Linked DNA regions of Homo sapiens: region 1 is linked to region 2. Evidence: fine-mapped expression QTL. A gene starts in region 2. The other region holds a variant in brackets. All regions are shown on one strand. Distances are from middle to middle. Region 1 overlaps DLGAP4-AS1 (DLGAP4 antisense RNA 1). Region 2 holds the start of MYL9 (myosin light chain 9).

What was found. PIP is the estimated chance that this variant, and not a neighbour inherited with it, causes the effect.
Region 1: its variant is the best candidate, but not a certain one, in a credible set for the expression of MYL9 in whole blood (Lepik 2017, PIP 0.71).

What each region holds. Positions count from the first base shown.
Region 1 is chr20:36,563,682-36,569,045 of GRCh38, forward strand. The region is part of intron 2 of DLGAP4-AS1 (DLGAP4 antisense RNA 1); the gene reads right to left. Among named protein-coding and RNA genes, the nearest start is that of DLGAP4-AS1, 6.9 kb to the right of the region's middle. The variant G/A (reference allele first, on the strand shown) is at 2,603.
Region 2 is chr20:36,538,275-36,543,638 of GRCh38, forward strand. It overlaps MYL9 (myosin light chain 9), which reads left to right and starts at 3,245. Exons shown (of 4, transcript NM_006097.5): 1 at 3,245-3,287. The region is part of intron 2 of DLGAP4-AS1 (DLGAP4 antisense RNA 1); the gene reads right to left. RefSeq lists a silencer at 3,066-3,265 and enhancers at 4,046-4,699, 4,700-5,353, 5,354-5,364.

The sequences.
Region 1 (5,364 bases), 25 kb after region 2:
GAGGCCAAGATGATGGAGAATGGGAACTACTAGGAATCTACAGGCATCTGGCAAAGGGCTGAGGACTTCCTCAGAGTATGGAATAAAATTTCAACTGGTCTTATCAAGATCCAGAGCAGGAAGACCAAGTTGACAAAGATCACTTAGATGAATCCAAAATGAATGAGGATATAGGAGGTGGAGAAATACCAGAGGACACACCTTCAGGGACAGGGCAGTTGGGATGGGCATAAGAGCACAGGCTCAAGAGTCAAGATTGTCTGGGTCTAAGATACTATTTCCTACTAAAGCAGGATATTTTATAATTTTAAAAAGGTCATTCCATCAGAAACAGGTAAAGTTTTAAACATATACGGAAACAGCAGAGCACCAAAATACAGGAAACAAAGGCTGACAGAAATGAAGGGAGGAAACAACTCAACAGTCATAGTTGGACTTCAATTCCCACTTTCAATAACAGATAGAACAAGTAGGCAGAAGATCAATAGGGAAACAGAAGACTTGAACACACGACAACACTACCAACCACCCAGACCTAACACCGATCTACAGAACACTGCACCCTACACCACCTAGACCTAACGCCCGTCCACAGAACACCGCACCCCACGACCACAGAATACAACACTACCCACCACCTAGACCTAACACCCATCTACAGAACACTGCACCCCACAACCACAGAATACAACACTACCCACCACCTAGACCTAACGCCCATCTAAAGAACACTGCACCCTACAACCACAGAATACAACACTACCCACCACCTAGACCTAACGCCCATCTAAACACTGCACCCTACAACCACAGAATACAACACTACCCACCACCTAGACCTAACACCCGTCTACAGAACACTGCACCCTATAACCACAGAATACAACACTACCCACCACCTAGACCTAACGCCCGTCTACAGAACACTGCACCCCACAACCACAGAATACAACACTACCCACCACCTAGACCTAACGCCCATCTAAAGAACACTGCACCCTACAACCACAGAATACAACACTACCCACCACCTAGACCTAACGCCCATCTAAAGAACACTGCACCCTACAACCACAGAATACAACACTACCCACCACCTAGACCTAACACCCGTCTACAGAACACTGCACCCCATAACCACAGAATACAACACTACCCACCACCTAGACCTAACGCCCGTCTACAGAACACTGCACCCCACAACCACAGAATACAACACTACCCACCACCTAGACCTAACACCCGTCTACAGAACACCACACCCTACAACCACAGAATACAACACTACCCACCACATAGACCTAACACCCATCTACAGAACACTGCACCCCACAACCACAGAACACTACCAACCACGTAGACCTAACACCCATCTACAGAACACGGCACCCTACAACCACAGAATACCATTCTTTCTTCTTTTTTCATTTTTTTGAGATGGGATCTTGCTCTGTCAACCAGGCTGGAGTGGAGAAGCGTGATCACAGCTCACCGCAGCCTCAACTTCCCAGGCTCAGGTGATCTCCCACTTCAGCCTCCCAAGTAGCTTGGAGTATAGGCATGCCCCACCCAAGCTAATTTTTTTATTTTTTGTAGAGATGGGGTCTCACTACGTTGTCCAGGTTGGTCTCCAACTCCTGGGCTAAAGGGATCCTCCCACCTGAGCCACCCAAAGTGCCGGGATTACAGGCATAAGCCACCATGCCAGGGCCACATTATTCTTAAGTGGACATGGTACATTCTCCAGGAAAGACCATATGCTAGGTCATAAAACAAACCTCAATTAATTTAAAAGGACTCAAATAATACAAAGTGTGTTCTCTGAGGACACTATAATGAAATTAGAAATTTGGGAAACATGGGAAACTCACAAATATGTGAAATATGTGGAAATTAAACAACATACTCTAAATAATGAATGATTCGAAGAAGAAATCCAAAGGGGAATTAGAAAATATTATGAAATGAATAAAAAGGCTTAAAACTTATGAAATGCAGCTAAAGCAGTGCTTGAAGGAAAATTCATAGCTATCAATGCCTTTTTATTCCTTTGAGACAGTGTCTCGCTTTATTGCCCACACTGGAGTGCAGTCATGCAATCAGGGTTCACTGCAGCCTCACACCCCTGGGCTCAAACAATCCTCCCACCTCAGCCTTTGGAATGGCTGAAACTACAGGCAAAAGCCACCAACACCTGGCTTAATTTTTTATTTTTCGTAGGGATGGGGTCTTGTTACATTGCCCAGGCTGGTCTCAAACCCCTGAGCTCAAGCGACCCGCGTCTCAGCCTCCCAAAGTGCTGGTATGAGCCACCATGCCTGGCCATATGTGCCTATTTTTTTTATTATTTTTTATTTATTAATTTTTTTTTGAGACAAAGTCTTGCTCTGTCACCCAGGCTGGAGTGCAATGGCGCAGGCTGGGCTCACTGCAACCTCTGCCTCTCAGGTTTCAGCGATTCTCCTGCCTCAGCCTCCTGAGTAGCTGGGATTACAGGCATGTGCTACCATGCCCAGCTAATTTTCTATTTTTAGAGGCGAGGTTTCACTATGTTGGCCAGGCTGGTCTTGAACTCCTGACCTCAGGTGATCCGCCCAACCTC[G/A]GCCTCCCAAAATGCTGGGATTACAGGCATGAGCCACCACACCTGGCCCATATGTGCCTATTTAAAAAAAAAATGAAGATTGTAGGCCGGGCACGGTGGCTCACGCCTGTAATCCCAGCACTTTGGGAGGCTGAGGCAGGCGGATCACGAGGTCAGGAGATTGAGACCATCCTGGCTAACACGGTGAAACCCCGTCTCTACTAAAAATACAAAAAATTAGCCAGGTGTGGTGGCGGGTGCCTGTAGTCCCAGCTACTCGGGAGGCTGAGGCAGGAGAATGGCGTGAACCATGGCGGCGGAACTTGCAGTGAGCCTAGATTGCGCCACTGCACTCCAGCCTGGGGGACAGAGCTAGACTCTGTCTCAAAAGAAAAGAAAAAAGTAAATAAATAAATATAGATTGTAAATCAATAATCTAACCTTCCACTTTAAGATACCAGAAAAATTAGAAAAGAAGAGCAAAAGCAGGAGTAAGCAAAAGGAAAGAAACAATAAATGCTGGGGCAGAAATGAATGAAATAGAGAACAGAAAAACAATAGAGAAAATTGATAAAACCAAAAGTTGGTTCTTTGAAAAAAGTCAAAGCAACTGACAAACCCTCAGCTAGACTGACCAAGAAAAAAAGAAAAAAGACTTGAAATTACTAGAGTCAGAAATGGAGACGATAATATTACCATTAACCTTTCAGGAATAAAATCCTACCTCCTCCAATGACCAGTTTTATAACCTCAGGTGTTACTTAGCCCCTCTGTGCCTCCCTTATCTCTATTCTTTAATCCCAACACTTTGGGAGGCCGAGGCAGGTGGATCACTTGAGCTCAGGAGTTCAAGACCAGCTTGGGCAACACAGCGAAACCATGTCTCTACTAAAAATGCAAAAATTAGCTAGGTGTGGTGGCGGGCGCCTGTAATCTCAGCTACTTGGGAGGCTGAGACATGAGAATCACGGGAACCTGAGAGGCGGATGTTGCAGTGAGCAGAGATTGCACCACAGCGAGACTCTGTCTCAGAAAAAGAAAAAAGAAAAAAAAGCAGTGGACTCCTAGATCCTATGAAGGCTGCAACCTAGACCCGACAAGAGATCAGAAATTTATTATCCAAAGAATACAGAAGGTCCTGGACAGATGAACACCAGGCACAGGAGAGGAGAAGACAGCAACAACAGAAGGGTTACACAGAAATTCATGTACTCAGTGTTGAGGATATCCAGACCCTTAGTCTTCCTCCACTCAGCTTGGGAACACTGTCAGCAAGGCACAGAGCCCACTCAGGCCTTCATGCCGCACTAGCTCCCAGGGCCCCAGACCTTCTAGTACAATGGAAAAATGAGACTGTCAAGGCATAGCTCTCATCAAAGAAATTCCAGGCCAGGCACAGTGGCTCACACCTGTAATCCCAACATTTTGGGAGGCCAAGGCAGGCGGATCACCTGAGGTCAGGAATTTGAAACCAGGCTGGGCAACATGGTGGAACGCCATCTCTACTAAAAATACAGAAATTGGCCGGGTGCAGTGGCTCACGCCTGTAATCCCAACACTTCGGGAGGCCGAGGTGGGCAGATCACTTGAGGTCAGGAGTTCGAGACCAGCCTGGCTAACATGGTGAAACCCCATCTCTACTAAAAATACGAAAAATTAGCTGGGCGTGGTAGCCTGCGCCTATAATCCCAGCTACTCGGGAGGCTGAGGCAGGAGAATCGCCTAAACCGGGAGGCAGAGGTTGTGGTGAGTCAAGATCATGCCTCTATACTCCAGCCTGGGCGACAGAGCAAGACTCCGTCTCAAAAAAAAAAAAAAAAAGAAAAAAAAAAGCCTACTGAAGCCTGATAGCTTCCAACTTTTCTTCAGCAGCTTCCTCAGCTCTCTCAGCCTTCAGAGAATTGAAGACAGTTAGGGCTTATGCTCTGGATTAGGCTTTGGTTTAAGGGAACGTTGTCGCTGGTCTGATCATCTATCTAGACCACTCAAATTTTCTCCATATCAGCAATAAGGCTGTTCCCTTTCTTATTACTGTGTTCACTGAAATAGCACCTTTTTCTTTATTTATTTTTGTATTTTTTTTTTCTTTTTAGTACAGATGGGCTTTCACCATGTTGGCCAGGGTGGTCTCGAACTCCTGACCTCAAGTGATCCCACCTGCCTTGGCCTCCCAAAGTGCTCAGGTTACAGGCATGAGCCACTGCGCCTGGCCAATTTTTGAGACAGGGTCTCACTCTTTCACGCAGGCTGGAGTACAGTGGCACAATTATACCTCACCACAGCCTCAACCTCCTGGGCTCAAGCCTTCCTCCACCTCAGCCTCCCAAGTAGCTGGGACTACAGGCATTCGCCACCATGCCCAGCTGATTATTTTTTGTTGAGAGGGGGTCTTGCTATGTTGCTCAGGCTGGCCTCAAACTCCTGGGTTCAAGAGACCTTCCCCTGCCTCGGCCTCCCGAAGTGTTGGGATTACAGGCATGAGCCACCAGACCTAGCCAGATAGTTTTTGTTTGTTTGTTTTGAGACAGAGTCTTGCTCTGTCGCCCAGGCTGGAGTGCAGTGGCGTGATCTCAGTTCACTGCAACCTCTGCCTCCCAGATTCAAGCAATTCTCCCGCCTCAGCCTCCCCAGTAGCTGGGATTACAGGTGTGAGCCACCGCGCCCAGCCAATTGTTCTTGAGTGAAATTAAAAGTGCTACTCCAGAGGCGGGGCATGGTGGCTCACAACTTTAATCCCAACACTTGGGACGGCTGAGGCAGGAGGATCACTTGAGCCCAGGAGT
Region 2 (5,364 bases):
AATTTTTGTATTTTTCGTAGAGAACAAGATTTCACCATGCTGGCCAGGCTTGTCTCAAATTCCTGGCATCAAGTGATCCACCTGTCTAGGCCTCCCAAAGTGCTAGGATTACAGGCAAGAGCAACCACACCAGGCCCCTTGTACACTGTTGATGGGAATTTAAAATGGTACAGCCACTACAGAAAACAGTTATTGCAGTTCCTCGGAATGTTAAAAATAGAATAACCATTTGATCCAGCAATTCCATTTCTGGGCACATACCCAAAAGAATTGAAAACAGAGACTTATATGTTCACAATGTCAGGTTAAAAAAACAATAGCAGGAACTTGAAGAGACCCATGTTCACTGAAGCATTATTCAGAATAGCCAAAAAGTGGAAGCAACCCAAGTGTCCATCCATGATGAGTAGATAAACAAACTATGCAAACAATGGAATATTATTCAGCCTTAAAAAGGACGAGAGCCTGGGCAACATGGCAAAATCCCACTTCTACAAAAAGAATTTTTTAAAAAATTAGCCGGGGCCAAGCACAGTGGCTCAGGCCTATAATCCCAGCACTTTGGGAGGTCCAGGCAGGACGACTGCTTGAGGCTAGAAGTTTGAGACCAGGCTGGGCAACACAGGGAGACCCTGTTTCTACAAAAGTAGAAAACTTAGCCAGGTGTGGGCCGGGCGCAGTGGCTCACATCTGTAATCCCAGCACTTTGGGAGGCTGAGGCGGGCAGATAATGAGGTCAGGAGATCGAGACCATCCTGACTAACACGGTGAAACCCCGTCTCTACTAAACATACAAAAAAAAAAAATTAGCCGGGCATGGTGGCGGGCGCCTGTAGTCCCAGCTACTCGGAAGGCTGAGGCAGGAGAATGGCATGAACCCGGGAGGCAGAGCTTGCAGTGAGCCGAGATCGCGCCACTGGACTCCAGCCTGGGTGACAGAGCGAGACTCCGTTTCAAAAAAAAAAAAGAAAACTTAGCCGGGTGTGCTGGTGCATGCTTGCAGCCCTAGCTACTTGAGGGGGTCAAAGCAGGGGGATTGCTTGAGCCCAGGAGGTCAAGGCTGCAGTGAGCTATAATTGTGCCACTGCATGCCACCCACGGCGACAGAGTGAGACCCTATCTCAACCCCCCACCCCCAAAAAGAAATTCTGATATACACTAAACATGGATGAACCTGGGGCTTGAGGACATTATGCTGGGTGAAATAAGCCAGTGACAAAAGGTCGAATGCTATATGATTCCACTTACATGAGGCCCCAATAAGTAGATAAACTCACAGAAAACAGAAAGATGAATGATGACTGCCAGGGGCGGGGAGAAGGGGGCAAGGTGGAGTTAGTGTTTAACTGGCAGGGAGTTTCGGCTGAGGAAGATGAAAGTGCTCTGGAGATGGATGGTGGTGATGGTTGCAAAACAAAGTGAATATACTTAATGCCACCAAACTATACACTTAAAAATGCTGAAAATGGCATGAACCTGGGAGGCGGAGCTTGCAGTCAGCTGAGATGGCGCCACTGCACTCCAGCCTGGGCGACAGAGGGAGACTCCATCTCAAAAAAAAAAAAAAAAAAAAAAACACGCTGAAAATGGTAATTTTATGTTATGTATATTTTACCACAATCAAAAAATAAAATGTAAAACTGGGACACTGAAGAAATGTGATGACAAATGATCTTACTTTGGCTCCTAGACCAGAAAAAATTCCTCTAAAGGACATTATTGGGATAACTGGCACAACCTGAATATGGACTGTAAATTAGGTAATTAAATCAATGTGAAAATTGTCCTGACTTTTATCATTGTACTATGCATATTTAAGAGAATCTCCTTTTTAGGAGGTACTCACTGAAACATGTAGAGATAACAGGACATACGTATGCAAGAAACTCTCAAATGGTTGGGGGTAGGAATAAATAAATATAAATGTATGTACATGTATTATATATATGTATATGTATATGGAAAGCAAGAAGAAAATATAATAAAACCCAATGGTAACAAATGGAGAATCTAGATGAAGCTATACAGGGTTCTTTGCACAGTTCTTCTAACTTTATCCTAAGTCTGAAATCATTTCAAAATAAAGTTTTTAAAAATTAATCTGTCCAAAATAGAGTTTCTTATCCCCAAACTGCTCCACACAGCAAACCCATCATAGAAAATGGCAGCTCTTTCTCGTTGCTCACATCAAAACTCTGAGAGTCCACCCTAACTCTTTTCTTTCACACCCATTCCCATGCCCCAGCAGATCCTACCGGCTGCACCTCGGAAATAGTTTTAGCACTTGTCCCTCGGCCTCCCCGCTAGTCCGGATCAGCCTGATCCTTGCTGGGTCGCTCCTCACAGGTCCCCTGCTCGTGGACTCGGCCCCCTCTGCGCTATTTTCAACACATCACCCAGAAGGATTCCGTCAAAACCCAAGCCAGGTCGTCACCCCCTGCTCGGAACCCTCCGACACCCCACATGGCCTACAGGGAGCCACAGAGGGGTCCCTGCTGCTTCTCAGCCCCTCCGGCTCCCGCCCCCATCCTCCTGACCTCCTGCTGCCGGCGACCCCAAGCCCGGGAGCCCTCACGGCGGGGCGCACCCCTGCACCTCCTGTCTGCCCAATGTCACTGCCCAGAGCACCCTGCGGAACAGCCCACGCTCCCCCCAGGTCCCCTTCTCCTTTGAGGCCCCAGGCCGCGGAGCTACTTGTTCATCGTGTTTCCCTCCACGAAACCAGTGCTTCCCGAGTGGTTCCTTCAACCCCGCTCTGGCGGGCGACCGCTGATGTGGACAGAGCGAGTCACCGGGCGTAGGGGTCCCTGGGAGCCCCCCCACCCACCGCCTCTGCCCTCCCCACGTCGAGAGCCGTTGCCCGTCAGGGGAAGCTGCACTCCCACGGCCCATACAAGTGGGAGGCCTCTGGGGAAGCGGCCCTGGACATTCCGTTTGCCTCTCTGGAGGGGAAGGGGTGGCCCAGAGCGAACCCCCACACCCCCTCTCCCATTGCCTGCTCACCCCATCACCTCCCCTCCCTACAAGGCCCTCTGTGCAGCCCGGGCTGGCACAGCAAGGAAGGGGGGCTCACCCCAGAGCGCCCCCGCCTGCCAGCCCGTGGGTCGAGGCCAAATAAGGCCGGACGGCAGCCGAGGGCCCCCGCACCCCGCCCGCGGCCCCGCCCCGCGCACATTCTTCTGCCTTGTAAGGCCCGGCCGCCACGCCCCGCCCCCGCCTGGAGTCCAGACCCGACGGCCGGCCCAGTTCCACGCACCCAGCGAGCCCAAGCGCCTTCTCCGCACCAGGTGGGATCCGGGGCCCCGGGGGTCTTGAGGACAGGCCTAACGGCCCAGGGCTGGAGATGAGAGGTGGCCCGGGCCCGACCCGGCTGTCACGGGGGGCAAAGGCGGGCCCCACGGACTGGGACGTGGTAGGGTCTGTTGGGCACGGACTGAGGGGTGAGCTGGGGCAGCGAGTTTGCTGGGGGCCGACAGGGACTCTGGCCAGGGGCCGGGCAGCAGGAAGGCTGTTCTGGCCTCTGAGAAGCAGTGGTCCTGCGGCAAGGGAAGGCCATCGTCCAGGCCCTGCCCCTTTGCTGAGGAGCTGGAGATGCCAAGCCCAGAGCTCCGGGGGGGGCTGGGGAGCCCGGGTACAAGGGTGCTGGGGAGAGGGTTGCAGTCGTCAGTTCCCCCTGGCCCAGTAAAGGCATGTGTGTCACAGATGGAGAAACAGCCCTGTGGGACTCCACGCCCCCACAGCATCTGTGTCCCCTCCCCATCTCCCATCCCTACACCCTGGGCCAGGGGAAAGGGACCGAGACCAGGGGGCCCTTCCGACACAGCCAGTGCTGTATGCAGGGACCCGGGCCTTCCCCTCTCTGGGTCATCTCGCCTGTGGGTGGGGAAGGTCTGCGGAGGGCCCTGATGGACTCACCCCTAGGGGGCAGGACGAGGACTAGTGGCTGGGAGAACCTGATCCCTGCTCTTCCCAGCCCTCCAGCTGCTCTAAGGAGGAGACTCAGATGAGGTGCACTGAGAAGGAGGCATCTGGCCTGCCCAGCTCCAGGGGCTGGAGGTCATGGGGGCACTGCCCTGTGCTGGCTTCAGCCCAGCCTTTTCTGTTATGGTGGGAATCTGGACACCAGGATGGGGGACATGGCATCCAGTCACATCCAGGCCAAGTATCAGTGCTGACCCCTGGTGTCTAGGGCACCTGAAGGGGGAAGCGATGGCCTCAGAACTAAAGGCCCCACCCATGCCTGCCCCTCGCCCCTCCACCAGTTCTAGAAGGCGCCTCTGGATACACAGAGCCCTTTCCCACTCCACTGCCACAGGCCCGCCTGAGGACTGGGGCTCCCTGTTTTGTTCAAGCCTCGAGGGCACCAGCAGCCAAGTTTGCTCTCCACTGACCCAAACCTAGCCCAGGAATCCTGTCTTCCAGGTGGCCCCTCCCCCTCTCATGGGCACTCCACTCCCCTTCTGGGGCCTCTTTTCCTAGCTGCACCATGGGGGCACCCCTGCCTCCGCTCACCACTTCCCACAATTGCTGGGGTGGACATGGCGGCCTTGTGCAAGCCCTTAAGTACAGTGCTCCCAGCCACACCACAGCAGAGAGTGCAGACCGGGTGGCCATGAAGGCAGAGGGGCCCAGCTGGGCTCAGACCCAGCTGTGGGTGGCCTGGCCATGCCTGCCCTAGAGCTTCATAGAGTGTGGTGGGGACAGTGATGGCCATCACAGCCTCTGTTGGGCACAGTGCACTGCCTCTCTGCATGCAGCCTTCTGTGGGCACCAGGAGTCAAAGTTCCCGAGAACACTGGACTCAGGGAAGGACTAGGCCCCTCTAAAGCACGGGAGAGGAGGGGGCCGGCATCTGGGGACAATGGCACTCCCAACTAGGTCATGGGTGAGAAGGAATTCTGTCTACCTTCCTGAACCATGCAAGAAACACTGAGGGCTGGGTGTGTCGGTCCGTGGGACACGGGCAACCACTGTCTCATGACTACAGGCAGTGATGGCCCTGGGGACCAGCTGGGGCTGGCCGGGATCCCAGTCCAGGGTTGATGATCTCAAAGGCCAAGGACCGAGAATGACTTCAACAGAGTCATGGGAGGAAGGCCTGGAAACAGCTCAAGTTGCAACCACACAGCTTGGGGTGAACAACAGGCAGAGGAGGCTTCCTGGAGGCCCTGGGCCCGGGGGTTTGGGCAGAGGGAAGAGGGGCCGCAGTCCTGGAACCTCAGCCAGGCCCACTGCCCCAGCCGAGGGAAGGAGGCACTGGGTCTTCAGGCGCATATCCCCACAAGCTGTGGCAAGCATTCAGGGAAACAGTCCCAGGCCTGGTCTCAGTTTCCCCATCTGTACAGTAGAAGCAGCAGACTGGCC